Linked DNA regions of Homo sapiens. The protein of the gene in region 1 purifies or fractionates together with the protein of each later gene. This does not show direct contact. Each region holds a gene or a part of one and is shown in the gene's direction. Other genes may lie near its edges.

The links.
Region 2: the proteins of ARHGAP24 (region 1) and DDX50 purify together in Homo sapiens (affinity purification with mass spectrometry, with the first as the bait; 2 studies listed by BioGRID). This does not show direct contact.

What each region holds. Positions count from the first base shown.
Region 1 is NC_000004.12:85,466,950-85,483,331, forward strand, and holds the start of ARHGAP24 (rho GTPase-activating protein 24), read left to right. Parts: upstream 1-8,200; 5' UTR 8,201-8,610; intron 8,611-16,382. UniProt on the Homo sapiens protein: Rho GTPase-activating protein involved in cell polarity, cell morphology and cytoskeletal organization. Acts as a GTPase activator for the Rac-type GTPase by converting it to an inactive GDP-bound state.
Region 2 is NC_000010.11:68,904,315-68,911,314, forward strand, and holds part of DDX50 (ATP-dependent RNA helicase DDX50), read left to right. Parts: intron 1-1,955; exon of another isoform or gene 1,956-2,023; intron 2,024-2,396; coding exon 2,397-2,693; intron 2,694-3,596; exon of another isoform or gene 3,597-3,656; intron 3,657-5,992; coding exon 5,993-6,068; intron 6,069-6,753; coding exon 6,754-6,932; intron 6,933-7,000. UniProt on the Homo sapiens protein: ATP-dependent RNA helicase that may play a role in various aspects of RNA metabolism including pre-mRNA splicing or ribosomal RNA production.

The sequences.
Region 1 (16,382 bases):
CATACTGTTTAAAGTCTTAGCTGGAGTCTGTCTAAAATAATGATATAACATTACCGTATAAGAAGTAAGTCTTTTGTTTGCTGTGAAAATGATGCTAGTAACTTTCAGAGGCTAGATGTTAGCTAAGAATAAATGTTCATATTGCAACATCGTTTCTGCATTACCTTAGAGGAAAATGGAAAATTCACTTTAAATCTTTTTTGTTCACCCATTCTTAATGATTGAATGTAAATTTCTTGAAAACACAGACAAATCTGAATTGACTTTGCATCTAGCGCTGGGCCTCACATTTAGGAGGTATTACACACTTTTGTGCCTGTGTAAGTGAGGCATCTCTGTATATGACAACCAGCTACTTTCCTGAATTTGCTAATTTCTCCCAATATGCTTCTGCTTTATGAAATTACCATTATTGGGCTTAACTACTTCCCCTATGTGCTTCTAATTCTTTGTGATAGTACTTGAGTATTGACAGAAGTTTAAAAAACCTTAAACAGGAATATGGGAGAACTTTACCTTAATAATGAATGTGTATGAACTGGTTAAAGTCTAGGCTTTAGACTTTAAGCTCCAAGTCTCCAACTAGCAGGAATGATGGAAATCCCCATCCAATTAAGCTTTCTCTCACAGAGTACTGAGTAGCTTATGTCTTCTCCCTGGAAGTCATCACAGATCTCAGTGCTGCTATCTGCTCCCTTACCTCATAGCCCTCACCTGCAGCAGGATTGAACCTGAAGGAACAGCTGGGATTGATCTTGCTGCTGATTGCTTCTACAGATGCTGGGCACTGCCATGCCCCAACCCAGTTCAGAGAAGCTTTCTCTATAACACTATTAAAATTATTAGGTTACCCAAAAGGTGGTCTCATTCTCTGTCCTTTGATTTTTCAATCCCTTTTCTTTCTTTTCTTTTTTTTTAAGAAACAGGGTCTCACTCTGTCACCCAGGCTGGAGTGCAGTGGTACAATCATAGCTCACTGCAGCCTCAAACTCTTGCATTCCAGTGATCCTCCCACCTCAGCCTCCCAAGTAGTGGGGACTACAGCAACACTACACCGAGCCACAGTTCCCTTTCTTGAATTTGGAATTATTTTCCCCCAGTTTGAGTCAGAGAACATTTGAATGGAATCATCTAATGTCCTATCCAAAAGGACTATTTTTCTTTAAAATGCATCAGTGTCTTAGGCTGAAGTTCAAGAGCCTCCATTTCCAACTCTTGGGACTACTATTCCTCATGATCACCATTTAGAAGCCTCTTTTACTCACCTGTCTATTCTTGAGTAAAGTACACAAGGTTGAAGAAAGTCTTCCATTGAAGACATCAAGACAAACTGCTCAGCATTTAGAAATGCTACCATTTGCCCTCCCCAGCCTGAGCCCCAGTTGAGTCTCATCTTACAATCCGGCCTAAGCTCGCCATTCTTGCAAAGTAAGCCTTCACAAAGCTTGCTTGCTCTCATTTTCAAACACAAACTCGGGAAAAGAAAAGAAAAGAAAAGGAGAGGACAATAATTTTGTAGTCCTATTTTATCTGCATAATAGCCCACATCTTGAACTTTCCTTTAACATTTATCTTCTTGGAATATCCTCCTAGTTTATTTTGAAAATCTTTCAAAAATTCCATTATTTTTATTGATTTTCCAGGAAGTTTATGTTTGGTCATTTTTCAAATATTAAGGAACTAGTTATCCCCAACACTACTTCTTACATAATCAGCCTCAGCCTATCTTTACTATGTCTTAAAAAACCAAGCTTATAATTTCAAAATTTTTATTTTAGTTTCCCTTCAAGATCTTAGTTTTAAGATTTTGAATACAACACTCAGTATTGAGGGACTAATTTTCAAGTTCATGAATTATCCGAACCACTTACTATTCCACTTGCTGATACTCCCCTTGGCTTTTTGGCCAATTCACTGTCCATTAGCACCTCTCACAGATGGTGAGCACGAAGAAAAAAACAGTTAATTTTGCTACTGGTTGGAATAAGAAGAAGAACAGTTAATTTTGCTATTGGTTAGTAACTTGAATAAAGGATCTGATAGTGTAGGACATTAAAATTAATACTTTAAGTGGGATTTAAAATTGGTCTGTAGGAGAACAACAATCTTCCTCCTCACAAAATAATGTAATAATAATTATTTTCAAACACTTGGCCAATATAAGTGATATATGAAAGGGAAATTGTGCTGTCTCTATTTGCATAGGGAGATGCTGTTGCTGATACATCAGTGAAAAGAATCCAGACTTTGTACTTGAATAGCCTAAATTCAAATCTTTTCTCCATCATTTATTAGCTTATATGATTGTGAATAAGATATATACAATGTTTCTCTTTGTTCTCTCTTCTGCAAAGTGAAAATAAGGATAAATTTCTCATAGCTGCTGCAATAAAGACCACATATGGGAAAGGCACATTAATAACCATAAGGAATATTCTTCTTATTTTATTATTATCATTATTAATATGTTTGGATGAGTTATATTGATTCATTTACACTCTCTTATCTAGTTTTTACGGAAGATAATTGAGTAAGTTGATGGTCCTGTCTGCACTCTATAACAATAAAACATTTTAATCTTCTTGACAATCTAGTTGGTTTTAGATGACTTAAAACAATGACCTCAGCTCCAATTTTCTAGTCAGCAATCCAAATATTGATCAAATCTAACGTTTGATCAACAATGGGATCAGTTATGCCTGGGATCTGAGTTCTTTAACAGTTTTAACAGCTTAGATTTGTATCTTGACTGTGTATTCTTTTATCAGTGGGGTAAGAATGTACAATGAGGTAAATGTTCTTCTCTTTAATTTTAAATTATCTGAGATGAGATAAAGCAGGCAATGGAGAGAGGGAAAGAATGGAACTGATGCCAAAAAAATCCATTATTTAAAGAGCTTGGGATATGATGAAAATAGGACGAAATGAGGATTTCCCAGACAGATGATAAGGTTTGGAATATACATGACAATGCAATTAGAAACATGAATTATGAATGTGAAGAACCTATTGGTAACTTGCTTTCTATTATCCTGAGTATAAGGGAATAGGAAGCTATTTTAAAAGTCACACATGTAACTTAGGAATACTATATAATGATTCTTGGGAGAAGAATGGTGTTATTTCAATGGCAGTATTTAATTTTCTAAAAAACTGAAAAGAAAAGATTCCAAAATGTGAACATGCTTGAAATCTACAAAATGGCATGTGTAGTCAGAGTAAGCCCACTTTGTTGCTGCTCAGGTGCAATTAGATTTCTAAATATTTTAAATGTCATTCAGTATTACACTAAGAGTTGAGTCCATAAGTGAACAATTGCATGTCTGGAGAAATATTTCACTTTATGAGTATGCATGTGTGATATGAATGTTCATGGTGTGTGTGTGTGCGTGCACACACATATGCCTGTACTTATAAGGGAGTAGAGAAAGGATAGAGAATGTGGTGAGCTAAAATGTGAATGACTGCATATTAAAGGTTGTCTTAGAGAAATTGTGAGTCAGCAAAGCACAAGGAAATTCTAGACTAGTAAGGGATTTAGAAATGACCACAGCAGGTATAAAGCAGAAAGTTTCTCTGGGAGCTGATTGGAGAAAAATCTGCATATCATGAAAGCGAGAGATTCTTTTTTTTTTTTTTTTTTTGAGATGGAGTCTCGCTCTGTCACCTAGACTGGAGTGCAGAGGTGCGATCTCTCCGCCTCCCAGGTTCACGCCATTCTGTTGCCTCAGCCTCCCAAGTAGCTGGGACTACAGGCGCCCGCCACCACGCCCGGCTAATTTTTTGTATTTTTAGTAGACAGGGGGTTTCACCGTGTTTGCCAGGACGGTCTCAATCTCCTGACCTCGTGATCCGCCCGTCTCGGCCTCCCAAAGTGCTGGGATTACAGGCATGAGCCACCGCGCCCGGCCGAGATTAATTCTTTAACAGAATCCAGCAAATTCCTGAAGTTAGGTTTAAACAGCATAAAAAGAAGCATTCTGAGACCGGGAGCAGTGACTTATGCCTGTAAGCCCAGCACTTTGGCAGACCGAGACAGGAGGACGCTTGAGCCCAGAAGTTTGAGACCTGGGTAACTTGTGGAGACTCCATCTCTACAAAATAAATTAAAAATTATGTACGCTTTGTGGTGCGTGCCTGTGGTCCCACCTACTCAGGAAGCTGAGGTGGGAGGATCCCTTGAGCCTGGGAGGTTGAGGCTGCATTGAATTGAGATGGGGCCATTGCACTCCAGCCCGTGGACAGAGTGAGACACTGTCTCAAAAAGGAACATCTTGATTGGAAACTAAGGTTTGAATTTGGGCCCAGGCCAAAAGGATCTTGCTTTGGTTAGTAACATGATCCAAATCATTATACAAAATAGGCACATACACAGAGGTAAAAAAAACAATTGGACTTATTCAACATATTCAAAATGTTATTACTTATCTCTAAGTGGGGAGATCATGGGCAGTTTTAAATCTCTTCTTTTAAGCTTCTCTGTAGCTTCCAAGTTTCATGAGTTGAACTAATTAATTTTGTAATTAGACAAAAACCAATAGACAGTACTTAGAAAGTAAATTTAATCATTGATATTTTTGGAACCATCTACTTTGGGGGTCTGGTAGATGAAAGAGTGTGACCCAAAAATATGTCAATTCAAAGAAAGTGTGGTGACGGTTGATACCACACTCCTCTCAGGATCTGAATGGGCACATAATGTGTTTCATTTATAAAGCTGTTGACTGTTAGAAGGCATGTGTTGGAATTATAGAGGCCATGGATGACCCATGGCCACAGCTTATTTTTCTATCATGCTCTTTCTCTCCTTTATTATCTTATTTACAGGTATTTAGCTGGATTGATCCTTCCCCACCATTTTAACAATAATAATACATCTTTCCCTGAATCATGTGATCCAAAGTGTTGGAGAGGGTGGGCACAAAGCTCCCTTAATCTCTTTCCACCTTACTTAGTAATTCAGACAAAGCTGGACTTTGTAGAAAAGAAACTTCTACCAGGAAATAAAAAGAAAAAACAAGAACAGATGTTTAGAAACAGACATGCTTTAAAAGGCATAGCCTTCTATCTGAATCCTGAAATCAGATGTTGGCAAATCCCAGTACCCACACAAATTCTGCATTGTTGGTGAGAGCTTGTTGAAAATGTTAGGATTTTGGCAATTCTTGACTATTCAGTTTTGTTACTGTGTTTTTTGCCCTCTTAGGAATTTATGTTTTCTTAAAAGAAAATGTAATTAAAAAGCTTCAGTATCTGATATTAATGGACAATTGGGTAATATGACAATGAATCACTCTATGCTAAGGTTTTCAAAGAATCTGACATGGAATCTGGTGAAAAACTTTGCAATTTTTAAGTTAGTGAAGTACATTAAAATACATTTTAATCCATACTCATTTAATAGTAACATTTGACCCATATACTTTAAATATTAGACAAAGTAATTGTAGAAACACTGGCTGAGGTTTCCCTAACTAAATTCCATTGAAAGAATGGCCTGATAGAATCAGTGTCCAGGGGGCTTTGTCTATGGAGGGGGTTTCTTTCCTTGACTCTGGCAATACCAACACTCAAACAACTTGTCCAGATGTAGTATAGCCATTATCTTCCTTCTCTCCTCCTCTGCTTTCATTTCTAGATCTCTGGAATCCCCCGGTCCTAAAGTATTATACATCCTTCCTGTAAACACTGAAGTCCTTCAAACTCTGCCTGCCATTATACTGACCTTTCATAGACTTTTTTCCTGAAGGTGTCTAGGACCTGAAGATCCTGGAAAGTTAGCCCTTATCCTTGAATCATTTCTGGGTTTTGTAGAGTTTGTTTGAAGCACACCTTTAACTCAGAATTGAGGTTGACTGATAAAACTCAGCTTTAAGTAACCCTCTGGGCAAGTTCTGAGCAGAGATCCAGTGAGCTGAATGTCAGGCACCACCTCCCTGGAGTCTGTATCAGTCACATCAGCATTCTCCTCTGATTAGAATCAGGTTTCAAGGGTCTTGTTCAAGAGTTTATTCTCTCCTTTAAAGATGCCACAATACGTATAAGGAATGTCTCTTGGTCCCAACTAATCTACAATAAGAGAGGAGCAGTATAGTCAGAGGCCAGAAAACAACGCAGTTTCTAGTTCAGGTTATATTCTCTTGGAACAGACTCCTTGCTGAGGGGCTTCTAGAAAAGGAATGCAATGGTCCACCTCTTTCTAAGTAGGAGGGGAAGAAGGGGCTTGTATTGGTGGATATAACTCCTTTCCTATCCTCTCAACTGTCTAATCCCCAAGTGACAACCATCCTCTCCTTCTGTTGTACTTTCTAGCTTAAGATAATCACATATATCACACACACCAATGAAGTGCTATCAGTTGGAAAGGGTGGAGACAGAACCAGAAGATGGGAAGGAAAAGGCCTTGAACACAGCCTGTGTGTGTATTAGAGGTGTGTCTTAATCTTTTGGACTAGGGACTACCCAGTAACCACCCTGAGTTCAGTTTTGTATCACTTTGAGACTAAACTGCTGTGGTAATATTTGTTAGACCCTGAAATAAATTACTGACATGACAGTTTCCTTGTTTTTTTAAATGTCCCCATCTTGAATCATAATTATTGGTACTTGTCTTCCTGAGGCTTTTGAGTCCATCAAATGTGTGCAAATTTCATTTGGGTTAATGTTATTTTCCAGCTTTCATCTGAAACTGCCCATCAGCATTCACCTGCTAGGGTGTTGCTAGAACATGTAAGGCCATGTGGGTTGATGAAGGTAATTTATTCCCACCAATTGGAAAATAAGCTACATTACTTCTAGCTTAGGAATTCCATACATATTTTTAAAATGAAATATGAAACGCAATTTTTTCCCCACACAAATTAATTTGATTCATTAAAGGGCTGAGAATTCTCCCACCAGAAAATCAAGTTTATAGTAGGACCTCAGCATGGGATGGGGTAGATTCGTTTCTCCAAGAACTTGGAGAAAGAGGACAAAAAGGAAAAACATATCAGTGTCCACTCAGCCTTTTATTTTTGGTGTTTCTAAAACTAAACATTTGCTCTTCTTCCATATCCCTCTCTCACTGGAGATCCCTAGTGAGGACACCCCCATTCTGTGTCTTAAGGATATCTGGTGATGATTTCTAAAAGAGAGTTTCTTTTATTAGTAGTAGCAGTAGTAATTGTTCGAGACGGGGGTGTCACTCCGTCACCTAGGCTGGAGTGCGCTGGCACAATTATAGCTCACTGCAGCCTTGACCTCCTGGGCTCAAGGGATTTTCCCGCTTCAGCCTCCTGAGTAGCTGGGACTACAGACATACGCCGCCACGCCCAACTTTTTTTTTATTTTTTTAATTTTTTTTTTATAGAGACAGGAGTCTCATTATGTTGCCAATTTTGGTCTGAAACCCCTGGGCTCAAGCGATCCTCCTGCCTCAGCCTTCCAAAGTGCTAGGATTGCATGACTGATCCACTGTAAGTGGGTTTCTAAAACAGAGATCTTTACAAAGCTTTTTGAAATAATTTGACTCAGCATGCCAGGTAACCAGAACTGTAAGATCACAATTTGAAACAGACATTGTGGTGATGGTGGGAAGAGACGGCCTGCATCAAAACAATGTTTACTAGTTTGTCCTTTTGTCCCATATTGTGTAACTCCGAGAGTTCTTACACCACCGTAAGAAAGTAATTATACTTTGAATTTCTCTAAGGCTCTAGTTAGAGAGCATCCATCTAAATGTGCATTTCCAGGAATATTGCTTTAATGGCCCAGGTAATTCTAATTGGAGAAATAAAATGTTAGCGAGACAGAGTTGGTAGAAGCAAGTAAAACCGGTGTATGGGGTTTGGCCAATGAAATGCAGAGCTCCTTGAGGGCAGGAGACATGTATTCACCAACCTTCTCGCGCCCACAGCCCCAGATCTGTGGCCAACAAGTATCTATGATGCACTTGAAAGGAACGAGCGATGCCAGATGCGGAGGAACCAGGCAGGGCGCATTCTGTCAGTGGCGCCAGGCGGTGTAGCTCCAGCTCTCAGATAACCCAGGCTTTGGGAGGGCGGGGCTCCTGCCGGCCTCCCCTGTAGTGCGGCTCGAGTCCTGTGAAGCTACCAGTTGCCAAATGAAATCTGAAACCTCGAGCTGTGTCTGAGGGTTGGCCCCACTCAGTTGTTCCAGCCTCTTGTACTGTATATTTACACATTCACACACAATCACCCTTTCTAACTTCTGGGACTCTTTGCGCAACTGCTAGGATTTCTCAAGTGCATGTGGCAACACAGCCCAGCTCCGGGTGGAAACCAGCAGGGCTCTGGAGGGGCTCGGAGACCAGGGGAGCTGTCAAGGCTGCGGCGGGGACCAGAGAGGAGCCTGGCGGGGGTGGCTGGGTGGCTGGGGGAATCCCCCCAACTTCCCATCGCAGGCGCAGCTCTCTCGGCCGCCTATTTCCTCCGAAACCCGCGCTGCGGAGCAGCCCAGTGCATAGAGTTCAACACTTCCCCTTGTTGTGGAAAGTAAAGGAGCCTCACTACCACCTTTTTTTCTTTGCGTTTTCTTACTGCTGGTCCTGGGAGCCTTTTCCTTCGGAGCAGCAGCCCTGTCCGGCATCTGTCTTGAGCTCCCAGCAAGGTAGGTGATGCGGTCGCGAGGAAGTGCGCGGAGCTACCGCGGGAAGGACGGACGCGGCTGCCTGCGCCAGGGGAGGGGGCTGCGGGGGGCGGGGAGGGGGCTGCGGGGGGCGGGGAGGGGGCTGCGGGGGGCGGGGAGGGGGCTGCGGGGGGCGGGGAGGGGGCTGCGGGGGGCGGGGAGGGATCGCAGGAATCCCGTGCTGATGTAGCCTGTCTGTGTTTGTGTGTGTGTGTGCGCGCGCGCGCATGTTTGTGCCGGGAGACAGCAAGCTGGTAGTATGTCTTTCTGGCTTTAAAAATAGATGGAATTAATAAAAACCCTTTGTACAATTCAATTTCCTCTCTTGGTATCCATCCTCCCCTTCCCCTTGTTTGTTTCCTCTAGTATCTTATAGGAGTTCCCTATGTAACAGGCGCACAAAGATAGGTTTTAATAATAAGCATATATATTTGCAAAAATATATATTTTATATGTATAAAATATGTTTTAAAATATTTATAAATATATTACATATTAGAAATATATATTATAAAATATATACATATATTTGTAAACACAAAACGTTAGGGAATCTTTGGTGAATTTGAAGCCACTCAAAAGATTTTGTCCAAATGTTTTTAAAAATAACATTTAATGATAAACATGTAATATGGTCTCGTTTTTAGAAAATACTTAAGACTACATTTATTTTATACGTACCCAAATAGAAGGGAGACAATGTTACTCTGAATTCCTTAGATAGATTTTCAGCATCAACCAGTAATAGGGAGCCCAGACTTCTTTGTAGACTATATCTCGTTTAATTCATTTGAATTAAACAAGTAATTTCTCCAAGTAATTTCTGTTTCCAGCACATTTTATGTTACTCTTTTTTTAACCTTCCACGGCATCATTGTTTCATCTCTTTCTAAAAAGGAAATAAATAAATCGTGCTGAGTATTTGGAATATAAAAGTTGTTAAGGCTTTGCTTATACATAAATACATAAATAAAACAATATGTGTTGCTATGTCTACTAAGTAAGACAAATTCATTGGAATCCAGGGATATTTGCAGTAGAGTTTAAGAGCTTTACTCAGTTACTGAGTAGAAGATGTACAGACGGATTAAATACAAACAATCTGTCCCCAGTTCCAATTAGAACTCAAAACCAATCCTTCAGGGCAAAAATGGATGACGCTATTGAACTGGGCATTGTAAAATAAAACACACAGAATGTATGTATTAGAAAAAGCCAGAAAACAGCCATAAAGTCACATCAGACTTGTGAAGATCTCACTCCCCCTTTTAAATTTCTTAATTCTTCCTCTTTTCTGGGCATATTTCAACTTGTAAGAGAGCTCAGTAATAAAAGTTACCATTTTATCTTCCCTGACTGCCTGGCCTTCAGGTAGCAAGTCCAGAAATCTGTTCTCTCTAGAGCCATTACTTAGTGGTCAGAGACTTCACCTTTGACATCTTGGAGGACGGAAATATTGACAAAACTCTGAAATAAATAACATCCTACCATTCACAGGCAGTATATTCTTGGTGGAAGACCTTTAAGTGGGGATAAGAGATAAACTGAGTTTTTCAGATCTGGAATTTAGTTTGAGGTATTTGGAAGGAATATAAAAGAGGTATGGTACTAGGAAAAATAATCGGTAATTCTTTCTGCATGTGGAGGGGCTGTTGAAACTCAGACTGTCCTTGGCTTTCAACTATATTACTTGGTTTTATTACTTCATCTCAGGGGTTTGGATTTGAGATGAGGTGGTTTCTCTGTAATATTCTTCTGTGCCTTACATACCCTGAATCTGAACTATTTTGAAAATATAAGCCTGATAAGAAGTGGGAAAGAATTAAGTTATCTAGAAAAAAATCCACTGCAGAACAAATGGCAATGCATTCTTCCAGACTAGAACATAGATTTAAGTGTAAAAGTGTTTTTGGGTGAAATCCCCAGGGAAATCCTTTCAGCTTTTGCTGGGGATAGTAATGGCCAAAGCTCTGAGAGCTTTCATGGATCATGGTTTTATTTACTGTGTGATCTTGGACTCTGCAGGGTGAAGGGTAAGGAGTGGGCAGGAAGGGTGAGGAATGTGCAACAGGTGGTGATGAGTAGTCCGAGTATGATTACTTTGCTGTCTTAGCCAAAGCCCTGTTGGTGTTTACCAACAGTTCCCTTAATATTTTCACTGTGACCTACTGGCCCATTGACGAGTGTTTTCTTTCCGGCTCGATTAAAGTCTGGGTTGGTTTCTCAGGGCTGAAAGCAAGCGGTGCTACTGTACAGTTCAGGCCGTGCGTTTGTTTCCTGTTCTTAGTGTGTGTGGTGCTGTAGCACCGTCTTAGTCGCTTGTAGTTATTTTCCTGTGAATTTTCTGACCAGCAGTGAAGGGTTCTTTTCTCATGAATTGAGCTATGTCATGCTGATTCCTTCTTTCTGCCATGTTTCAGTTTCTGGTACAAGTGGGTGCTTTGGAAAAACAAGATGGGGAAGGTAGGTAGAGTCTCAGTCTGGAGCCCAGTAACAAGGGACAGCCACCCAATTGGTTACATGTGGGTGTGGAGGAGGTTGGTGATAACAAGAGCCTGAGACATCCATTCTTCACTGATCACATTTTATAGAGGAAAAAGCAGAAGATATTTAAAATGGAACGATGCCTGTTTGCTCTTAAAGCCATGGCTAAAGGACTAAGATCTCTCCCAGATACAGAAAGATATTTAAAAATACAGTTGTTAAATGGTCAGCTTAGCCATGAAGTTAATGTTCTTCATGTGAAGAGTGGAAGCCTCACATCGAGTCTCGCAATGGTAACCCATCTGTCTTTGCTATACAAACTCAAACTTTACAAGGTTCTGATGGCTTCAGCAGCTAAGTACAAGCACATTTGGAAGTGGAGGGATTATTGTGATGAAGAATCAAAGAATATTCAGTTTTCAGTGGTTATTGTGTACATTTGTGCAAAAAAGCAGCATCTACACTCCACTGTGGCATTGCTACAGTTAATCTTTACAAAGTCAGATCTAACTGTGTAAGTCTCTTTATCTAAAACCTTTGTTGGATTCCAATGACTTACAATATTTAAACTCTTTAGTATAGTTTCTAAAAGCTCTTCCAAGCCCTTTCTTTTTAGCTCCCCCTTTGTGTACAAGGTCTCCTCACTGTTCAGGCTTCTGATCTCTGGTTCATGGATTCATTCTCCTGGAATGCCTTCTGTCTGAAAGTCCCTCTTGATTCTTGGTGGCTCACTTCCAGTGGAACTTCCTTCGGGAAAACTTACCCAATTCCGTGAAGAATTAATCATTTCATCTTGTCTGCTTCTATAGCATTTTGAACATACTTTGAATAATTGTTGCAATAATTTTTATGTATTTCCCCTGTCCTCTCTCACAACTACTGTGAGTTCCTCACTGGGTAGATTGGTGGTGGGGGAGCCACCTGAATTCAAGCCCCCAGCCCAGTGTTGGAAACATAGTACACATCTGTTAATGTTTCCCCAATAAGTGGGCAAGTGAAGTCGTCAATAAATGAAATACTGGTGCACTCCAACTTATGAAGATAGTTATATCTCAGAAGTCCATTTAAAAAATGTCTATTTGGTCTTAGAGTTCATTTTCCAAATATAACAATGCTACAAAACATAATCCACTTTCCATACCACCCCACACATGCCTATTTAATCTCTATAATAGATGAAATATTGTGCTTTTGCATATCTAAAGCAAAAGCAAAACAAACAAAAACTACTGTGAAATCATCTTTTTCTTTTGGACATCACAAAATACACTTGAGTTTAAAGAAAATAGAAACAATTATAATAGATATACATTTTCCACAACTGTGTTTTATATTGTACTATAAAATCTGTAATCTGTGAAATCCAAGTGGGAGGTCCTGGATTTGGCTGTGAAGACTAATAATGAAGTTAAATTTGGAGATCCTGCTTATTGAATGGGCAATAGTCTTAATTAATCAAATAAAATAGAAACACTAATTTTGGCTATTTAATAATTATCTGGAGTGCTGGTGCTTGAGGGAAATTAATTAAAGGAGAATGTGGAGCTGGATGGAGAAGAGGAAATTTAGAGGGGCAGCTTCTTTCATGTTATAGTTTCTTTATTGTATTGATTTTCCTTTCATCTCATTTGAGCACTGAGGCAAATCCAAAGTTTCTTCCTGAAAAAAATTCTTTGTCTGCAGTTATTTTTGCTAATATGTAGAAAGGGGCTTACACACTGTTTAGACTAAAATACATATGGGCTTATTTTATTTTCAGAGCAATGTTACCTTTGTCATGTGCATACTGCCAGTTAGCACGTGGATAATACGTATTTTGATCAAGAATTCATACGTGTGGTTCAGGGTATAGCCAGGGATTGAAAGCTCAAGTTCCTCCTTATTCAGCATCTCTGAAAAGCCTGGAACTACTATCACTGATATTTAAGAATAATAGTCCAATCGCTAATTGCTCTAAGTTTTCTAAACTCTCTATCTATATCAAATTACATAACTGGAAATGTACTTACTATAATCACATTACAATACTTTTTTGTTAAAATGTCAAAATGTCTTTATTACACTATGCTTTAATATGATACCCCCCCTTTTTAACTACTGAGAGTCAATATAAAAGAGATGAGCTGAAAAGGAAAGAAATATCTTGGCACCTTATGTTATGCGTTTCAAATTCTTTATATAAGGATTTCCATGATAAATTCCTTTTTGCCTAGACTGCTAGGAATTTTTTAAAGTATATCTCTTCTGATTAACTAGTGGGTTTTTTTGGTTAGAAAAAAGACAGGCTAAAAATTCACCATGCTTCTCAGTTTGACTTGTCACCCAAAAAACTCTGAACTAAATTTGATGCTCAATTGTACGCCAGTCAAGCTTTTTGTATGACATGGTTCACATCATCTTATTGTCACTTTTAATACCCTTATGATACCCACAAGTGTACTAAGCTAATTAAGCTAAGTTAAATCCATGATGAAAACAGATTGAATAGTTACATCACGTTTTTTTCTTGATACAATTAGTTAAATATTTATAAATTTGCATGGTATGGCTTTAGTTTTTTGGAACCAATAATTGTTTTCTAGGTCATTTTTTGTAGTTCCTTGAAACATTCTCTGTAGTGCTTTTATAATCCCTGATAGATAAAATGACCTTTCTTCCAAATGCTACATTTTTTAAAAAATGTAGGAAAAAAATCACATTTTAGTAACTTTGAAAGTAGATACTAAGGCCAAACATGAGTTCTTTTCAATATGTGTATCACAGATGTATAGAAGAATTCCCTTAGGGATGTCGCTGAGAAGGGTAAGAGAAAACCTTTTGTTTTTTCTTACAAATTGAATCTATCAAAAAATTGAGGCTGATGGAGCTGTAATTAGGGCTGTTTTCAAACCATCAAATTGAGCCTTCAGAAAATAAAGTAATTTTTCAAATTCTCCAAAAAGGGAGAATATAACTTTCATTTTGTCTTGAGTTTTTTTCCCTCTCCTTGAATCTAAGACTCTCATAATAATAATCATCCTAAAGAATTAAGTACTTCTTCTACGTACCAAGTACTCCATGAGATATTTTTACATACATTACTTCTGATTTTAGTAGTAATTAGAATTAGTAATTCTAGATGTAATCTATGTTATATTTAATCCAGATATTTTTATGACTATTGTATGGGGATGTTTAGGCTCAGAGAGGTAAATAAAGTTACCCAAGGTAATGTAGACTTGAACATCAAAACCACATCTGCATAAGTCCAAATACCCTGACATATTTACTATGTCCCTTTCCTCTCAGTGCTTTTCAATTATGAATTTTCAAATAATAAACTGTGTATTTCATGGGTTTGGCATGTAGGATAGATCCTGATCTCAATATGATTCTCATGAACTGGCCTTGGAGCTCTCTTGCAGGTCTTCTAGATGACAGCATCCTAGTGCTGATGAGTTGGGACCTGTGGGATGGGTTACCACTACCAAGGTTGGCTAGTGAGAAAAGAGGCTCCATCTACCATAGGCCAGTAACTGAATCAATCTATAGTGATTAGCCTAACCAGACTATTTTCTGGTGAGAAGTGAACAGGAAAGGTGTGGTCCACAGAGATCCAGTAATCTATATCCATTACTTCATTCCATGACATGGGGACATACGTCCTGGGAGCACTGTGAGCAACAGGTGGAGGCAAAGAGGAGGCAAGTGGTCCCCAGTTTAAGAATAGAGCCCCAGCTTGGGAAAGCTGAAATAAAACAAAAAAGGATGATTTCTTTGGGGAGATAGCAACTGAGAAAAGAAGAAAAGTTGGGTTAGTAGTGTTAGTACTCACTGGGCACGCAGAAGTAAAATGAGCTACAGGGAATGGGATTTCAAAGCCAGTCTTTCTCAGAGAAGGGCAATTATTAGAGGAATTATGGGAGTGCATCTCACTCCTGTTTGAGGAGATACCTAGAGAAGAGAATTCTACAGCTACCTTGAAGAGTCATCTTTGATTGTTTCATTTTGTTGGAACTATCTGGTTTAAAATTTTCTTATATGGAGAAGCTTCCAGCAAGAAAATATGATCCGGGGGAGTTAAAACAGCCTGATGTTATCTTCTTGCAACCTAACTGTGTAAACCCAGGATTAGCCACAAAAATACTACCTTCAGTGTCATTTTGGTTTTCACTTCCCATTATGGTTTGTCATTGTGAAATCGTCAAGTGAAATGTTGATGATTTTATATAACATCATATATGTGTTATACAGCAGATCTCTGCTTTCTCACATTTCTAAATAATTTGTTGATTGGAGACTTCATTTATTGGTGACAACTTATGCTTTCATCGTGGGATAACTTTTCAGTACCTATAAGATTAGGTAAGGTTGGTGGATTCCAAGGAGGAGCTGGGGTCTTTGTGCCTGGAGACAGGTAGAAGCCATGGGAACTGCCTCATGAGGAGCTCTGAGAACCCCTGCACAACAGGTCAAGCTGCCGAGGGAGGATGAAAGGGGGAGGGGCAGAAGCAAGGTCACAGGATAACAAGTGCCAGAAGCCAAGAAATCAGGAGAAAAGGCAAATCCAGAGACAGTACCGGGAACTAAAAGCCAAGGGAAAGGGAAAGGAGACAATGTTTGATGTGACAATTAAGAATGCCATTCCTATGTAAGAATAGATAACAATGATTGAAGCCTTACTATGTGCTAGTTTGGCCCTGTGCTTGTCATAGGTTATCTCATTTAATCCTCACAGTTCCTACATGAGCCCTATCTCTCTCTTATAGATGGAAAAACCAAAACCTAGAGAGGCTTAGTAGCTTGCCAAAAATCACACAGCCACTATGTGGTAGATCTGGGATTCAAATTAAAGTATCTCACTCCAAGAGAGCAACCTTTAACTGTTATGCTCTGGAATTAGACCTACATTCTAACCTGGCTCTGATATGCTTAAGCCCTGCAACCTTGGGGAGGTTGCATTCACCGATTTTAACTACAGTTTTCCTCTCCTTATATATGGGCATTTAATGACACCTACTTCATAGTGTTAATGTGAGTTCTTAATTTATGAAGTGAGCAATGCATGAAAAGACTGGAGGGGTGTCTGGCACCTGATAAATATCAATACAAGTTAATAGTTATTATTAAATTCAGTGACAAACAGGGGGAATCCTGAGCAGTATTTTTCAAATTGTAGGTCTTAATCTAACAGTGGTCATAAAATCAAATTACTGGCTTATGACCAACATTTCTTTTTGAATGAAAAAGAATAGAATAAGATAGAATAGATGGAAAAAAAAACTCAGTGT
Region 2 (7,000 bases), on another chromosome or scaffold:
AACAAAACTGAAGTGAATAGTGGTCTGGTATTGAGGTGAGGATAACTTTGGTTCGGACGTGTTGAGATATGGAGCTGGTGCTTAGATTCTTAGAGTTGGAATGTAGGTGAGGAAGGGAGTCTGGAAGTACGTATTGAGCCATGAAAATAGTACTAAAAGTGAACATAGAGAACAGATACTCAAGGAGCATCCACTGGAGGAGGAAGGAGAGGAACCATTGAAGAAGATATGTGGTAGAGGTAAGAAGATAGAGGTAAGAAGGGAATATAAAGTGTAACTGAAACCAAGTAGACGGAGAGTGCCAAGCATTGTGGGTCTAAAGTGGAATTATTTATTTAATCACCTTGAGATGTTACTGGGCTTAGACCGAGAGGTCTCCTTTTGCCTTGCTTCAACTTCTCTCTGTAGTGCAGGGCCCAGAAGCAATTCAAGCCCCAAGGCTGAATCGATAAATAATCTTATTTTTCTGTAGAACCTATTGGTTTGGAAAGATGTGGTCTAGTGTAGTTAACTGCAGATCATATGATGTAATGTGTAACTGCAAAGCATTTTCACACATATTGTTCAATTCTCACAGCAATTCCAATTTTATGGATGAGAAAATTATATGTGAAATAACTCTAAAAGTTGTGTAAGTTATGGTGAACATTTTGGTGGTAGTAGTTTTTACTATCACTAATTACTGCTATCTATTTTGAATATTTGACCAGGTAATTCATTTTTTTGAGAGTGGCCGAGATTACAGGCGTGTACCACAACATGCAGCTAACTTTTGTATTTTTGTAGAGACGGGGTTTCCCCATGTTGGCCAGGCTGGTCTTGAACTCCTGACCTCAGGTGATCCGCCCAACCTCGCCCCCCCAGAGTGCTGGGATTATAGGCGTGAACCACCACGGCTAGCCACCAGGCTAAAGTCCTAAATTCCCAAATCATTTATTGTGTTCTGTAAATATCACAACACTGGCCACTAGTTTGAGATTTTAAAATTGAAGTTGAAAAATAGTGTTTTTTAAAAAAATTAACTGAATTTAAAACGTAAAAAAAAAAAAAAAATCCAGGATTACTGTCCTTCCGTGGAAGTATAACAATTGGACTTCTATATGAATTATATAGTTTCTTTTTGTTTTCCTTTAGCCTGTGAATTGTCAAAGTGCAGGGAGGAAGCATAATGTGAAAAGAGAATGGGCTTTCAAGTCAGGCAGTGCTAGATTCAGTTTCTAGTACTTATAGCTGCAGGAAATCCCACATGTGGATCTTTGGCAAGTTGCTTAACCTCTTACAACTTCTGTTTCCTTGTCTATAAAATGGCAAAGGTGGCTGGGCACAGTGGCTCACGCCTGTAATCCCACCACTTTGGGAGGCCGAGGCTGGTGGATCACCTGAGGTCAGGAGTTTGAGACCAGTCTGGCCAACAGGGTGAAACCTCGTTTCTACTAAAAATACAAAAATTTAGCTGGGCATGGTGGCGTATGCCTGTAGTCCCAGCTACTTGGAAGACTGAGGCAGGAGAATCACTTGAACCCGGGAGGCGGAGGCTGTAGTGAGCCAAGATTGCGCCACTGCACTCCAGCCTGGGTGACAGAGCAAAACTCTATCTCAAAAATAAATAAATAATTAAATAAAATGGCAAAGGTAATACAGGTTCACTATCCCTTATCCAAAATCCTTGGAACTAGTTGTATTTTGGAATTCAGAATTCTGGGGATTTTTAGAAAGGTAGCACCCCGGTAGGGTTTGGGGCCTGAAACCTGTAATCAAACACCTTAATATTAAATATGAGTGGTCATACTAAGCAGGATAAATGAAGACTATAAAGAGCCTCACGTTAGTTCAAGTTAAATTTTGCCATCAAATGAGTTCAGGTAAGGTTTTGCCTCCAAATAAGTTACAAAAAAAACTTTCGGTTTTCAGAGCTTTATGGATATCGCAATTTCGGATAAGGGATTATGGACCTGTACTTCCCTTATAGGGTTGTTATGAAGATTTAAACAAGATAAGCTGAAAACACATTACACAGTGCTGGGTAGGTATTCAATAAGTATTAATTTTTTTTTCTCTTGGAAATGTTGGAAGTTTTTGCTTGTTTAGTAATTTATAATTCTGGGGTTGTCTTTCTTTCCCTGAGGAGAAACCGTTTTAATTTTCCTTAAATCTTATGATGGGATTAGAGAGGGGCTAGAGGCTGAGTCTTGAGAATGCTAGGAAGGGGATGAGAAAGATAGCAACAGTTGAGGCTTAGAGCTTGGCATTAGTAAGCAGTCTGGATTTCTACCAGGCAGGTTTTCAAAGTAACTGTAGATTGAGCTGAACTGGTGGGGGAGTCATGCTCTAACTTCTCTAGAGTCTTAAAAGAAAACCTCTGACCATCTTGTCATTGCTTCTTTGTTTGTTCACAGAGTGACAGAAGGAAGTCAAGGCACCATTATGACTCGGATGAGAAATCAGAAACAAGAGAAAATGGTGTTACAGATGACCTGGATGCTCCCAAGGCCAAAAAATCTAAAATGAAAGAGAAGCTAAATGGAGACACTGAAGAAGGATTTAATAGACTTTCAGATGAATTCTCCAAATCTCATAAGTCAAGAAGAAAAGATCTACCAAATGGAGATATAGATGAATATGAAAAAAAATCAAAGCGAGTATCATCTTTAGATACTTCTACTCATAAATCAAGTGATAATAAACTAGAGGAGGTATGGAAGCTTTTTATTTTGCATTTGACATTGTTGTTGAACTATAGGTTGATTTGAATTTTTTTAGGCTAATTAGAATTGATTCTATAACATTTCTTGATTAGTGTCTAGTATTCTTAGTTGCACTAGAGTCTGTACAGGTGAAGCCTGAGCCTTTTTTCCTTTGGCCCTTGTTTATTTCACTGTATGGCCTTTTTCTTGGGGCGAGGTGGGAGCAATAGTTAAATTTAAACCTTTTCTGTACATTTGGGTTCCTAAAGTTATTCGGAATTGCTTGATGGTTATCTACTTGAATTTCTTTTCTTTTTTCTTTTTTTTTTTTTTTTGAGTCAGAGTCTCTCTCTGTTTCTCAGGCTGGACTGGAATGGCACAATCTCAGCTCATGGCAACCTCTGCCTCCCGGGTTGAAGCGATTCTCCTGAGTCAGCCTCTCAAGTAGCTGGGATTACGGGCACGCACCACCATGCCTGGCAAATTTTTGTATTTTTAGTAGAGACGGTGTTTCTCCATGTTGATCAGGCTGGTCTTGAACTCCTGACCTCAAAGTGATCCACCTGTCTCGGCTTCCCAAATTGCTGGGATTACAGGCATGAGCCACCACACTGGGCTGATAATTAGTAATTCTTTATATTATATAAATACGATAATTGCTGATATTCATATACATTTGAGCTTAATGCATAATCTTTGGGGAAAAGTGTTGAATCCTTGTGTTATGGCCTTTTTTTTTTTAATTTGTGAATTTGCTGTTTGGCAGGAAGCACATGTGTTTGTTGATCTAAATAAGGTCCTTTAAATCTGTATTTCTAGCAGTGGAATGTATGGCTTGCTTCTCACTTTGGTGGGATTTTGCCTGGTAAAATCTGTATTATAATAGGTTTAACAGTTTATTATTTTGTTTAGATCACATGAGAGTTCAGGAATTCTACTTAAAGGAATTTATCCTAAGGAGATGATGAAGAGGTGTGCAGAGCTGTATGAATAAGTACTCTTATCATAGTAATATTGTTGATAATAGGAAAATATTTAAACATCCTAAATGTCTGATAGTAGACATTTGGTTTAAATAAAACATACTATAGCTGTATAATAGAATACAGCTATCCCAAAGGGTGTACAATAGAAAAGGTAGTCATTGTATCTTGTTAAAAGAAAAAAATAGGCTGGGCGCAGTGGCTCACGCCTGTAATCCCAGCACTTTGGGAGGCTGAGGCAGGTGGATCACCTGAGATCAGGAGTTCCAAGACCAGCCTGACCGACATGGTGAAACCTGTCTCTACTAAATACAAAAAAATTAGTTGGGTGTGGTGGCGCATGCCTGTAATCCCAGCTACTTGGGAGGCTGAGGCAGGAGAATCGCTTGAACCTGGGAAGTGGAGGTTGCAGTGAGCCGAGATTGCACCATTGCACTCCAGCCTGGTCAACAAGAGCGAAACTCCATCTCAAAAAAAAAAAAAAAAAAAAAAAGATTATAAAATGGTATATACAGTGTGATTTTATTTCTATTTAAAAAATTTTATGTGCATAGAGTGAAGACTGGAGGAGTATGTTTCAAATATGGCTTTAGCTGAGTGGATTATAAATAATTTTTAAATTTGTTTCTGTTTCCTCTGTAGTTTTTAAAATTTCCTTTTTTTTTTTTTTTTTTTTTGAGATGGGGTCTCACTCTGTCACCTAGGATGGAGTGCAGTGGTGTGATCATGGCTCACTGCAGCCTCATCCTCCCTGGGCTCAGGTGATCCTCCCACCTCAGCCTCCTGAGTAGCTGGGACTATAGGCGTGTAGCACCATGCCTGGCTAATTTGTGTATTTTTGGGAGAAATGGTGTTTCATTCACTATGTTGCCCAGACTGGTCTTGAACTCCTGGGCTCAAGTAATCCACCCACCTTGGCCTCCCAAAGTGCTGGGATTACAGACATAAACCACTGGGCTCTGCCAGTTTCAAAAGTTTCTACAATGACAGTGTATTGTTTATTTTTGTTTGTTTGTTTGTTTTTTATAGAGACAAGGTCTCACTGTATTGCTCAGGCTAGTCTTGAACTCCTGGGCTTAAGTGATCCTACCACCTTGGCCTCCCAAAATGCTGGAATTACAGGCATGAGCCACCACGCCTGGCCGACAGTGTATTATTTTTATAATTTTTTTTATCATAAAAAGGTAACAGCAGCATTGAAGTTTGTTTAAATGGCATGCCATTTGAATTTGAAATTATTTTTTATCTAATTCCAAGTTTGAAAATTGTTAGTGTGTGTTTCTTTAAACACATGAACAATAAAGCTTACTGGGTAGACACACTGTTTTTGTTCTATGTGCACATTAGTATACAAAGTTTTCAATAAATGTTAAATGATAATCTCATGGTAACTTGTATATATGTTAAAGAAATCTTCAAGCTTACGGTAACTTTCTCTTGTATTAGCAACCTAAATAAGCTTTCAAACGCTGTAGAATAAATTTTTAACTTATTTTCAGAAAAACTTTACATTCCTCATTATATACTTTCTTTTAGCTTAGTTTATAGGCTTGTGTTAATCTTTATAATTTTGTCTACATCTGTATGATTTAGATGAATAAATAACCTTTTTGGCTGGGCATAATGGCTTATGCTTGTAATCCCAGCAGTTTGGAGGCCAAGGTAGGAGGATCTTTTTTTTTTTCTTGTTCTTCTTTTGAGACAGAGTTTCGCTCTTGTTGCCCCGGCTGGAGTGCCATGGTGCAATCTCGGCTCACTACAACCTCTGCCTCCTGGGTTCAAGCAATTATCCTGCCTCAGCCTCCCGAGTAGCTGGGATTACAGGCATGCGCCACCATGCCTGGCTAATTTTGTATTGTTAGTAGAGACAGGGTTTCTCCATGTTGGTCAGGCTGGTCTTGAACTCCTGACCTCACATGATCCACCTGCCTTGGCCTCCCAAAGTGCTGGGATTACGGGCATGAGCCACCGCACCTGGCCAGGAGGATCTCTTGAGGCCAGGAGTTTAAGATCTGCCTGGATAACATGGTGAGACCCTGTCTCTACAAAAAATAAAAAACTAAGTGAGCATGGTGGCATGCGCCTGTGGTCCTAGCTGCTTGGGAGGCTGAGGTTGGTAGGATTTGAGCCCGGAGGTTGAGGCCACAGTGAGCTGTGATGGTGCCACTGCACTCCAACCTGGGCAACAGAGTGGGACCCTGTTTCAAAAAAAAAAAAAAAGTGTTCCACTAATTTTCCTTGTAAGTTAATCTGTAAAAAATTAAAAACAGTAAATGAGGAAGAGTTGAGTATAAATTATTTAGGCCATTGATTTCATTTTTACAGACCTTAACACGTGAACAGAAAGAAGGAGCCTTCTCCAATTTTCCTATTTCTGAAGAGACTATAAAGCTTCTGAAAGGTATGCAGTTTGGTTGTTGTTGTTATTGTTGTTGTTTTGAGACAGAGCCTCGCTCTGTTGCCCAGGCTGGAGTGCAGTGGGGCAGTCTTGGCTCACTGCAACCTCCGCCTCCTGGGTTCAAGCGATTCTCCTACCTCAGCCTGCTGAGTAGTTGGGATTATAGGCGTGTGCCACCATGCCCGGCTAAGTTTCATATTTTTAGTAGAGACGCAGTTTCACTGTGTTGGTCAGGCTGGTCTCAAACTCCTGACCTCCTGATCTGTTCCAGTTGGGTTACCAAAGTGCTGGGATTACAGGCGTGAGCCACCACGGCTGGCCCAAAGGTTTGCAGTTTTAATGGATATGCAATTAAAAATCTATCACTAGATTTTGTAAAACTCCTGTGCCTTTTCTGACCAAAAGGAGAACATAAAAAGCATAGAGAAGTAGCTCTTCTTTAATTGCACTTACTTTTACATCATCCTTTTCAATATTCTGCCTTGTTTTTAGCTTTAAGATTTATATGCATTCGTCAAAAGTTTAGACTAATTTTTTAGTAATGCTTGTTTGTGGTAGGAATAACTGTGTCACCAGGTGGCATGTCTTTAGGCAGACATAGAAGAATTATGATTGTCATTTTCAAATGAATATATTTTTTCCTAATGCTAGTCGTAAAGAAGTATTTTAATTAAATCTCATTTTACAGGTCGAGGGGTAACATATCTCTTTCCTATTCAAGTTAAGACCTTTGGTCCTGTATATGAAGGAAAAGATTTAATAGCTCAAGCACGGACAGGAACAGGAAAGACATTCTCTTTTGCCATCCCCTTAATTGAAAGACTCCAAAGAAATCAAGAAACAATTAAAAAAAGCCGCTCACCAAAGGTAATCGTTATAGGGGGTAAAAGCTTTAAATGTTACTCTAACAGAAAGGGAAAGAAAGTTACACGAGT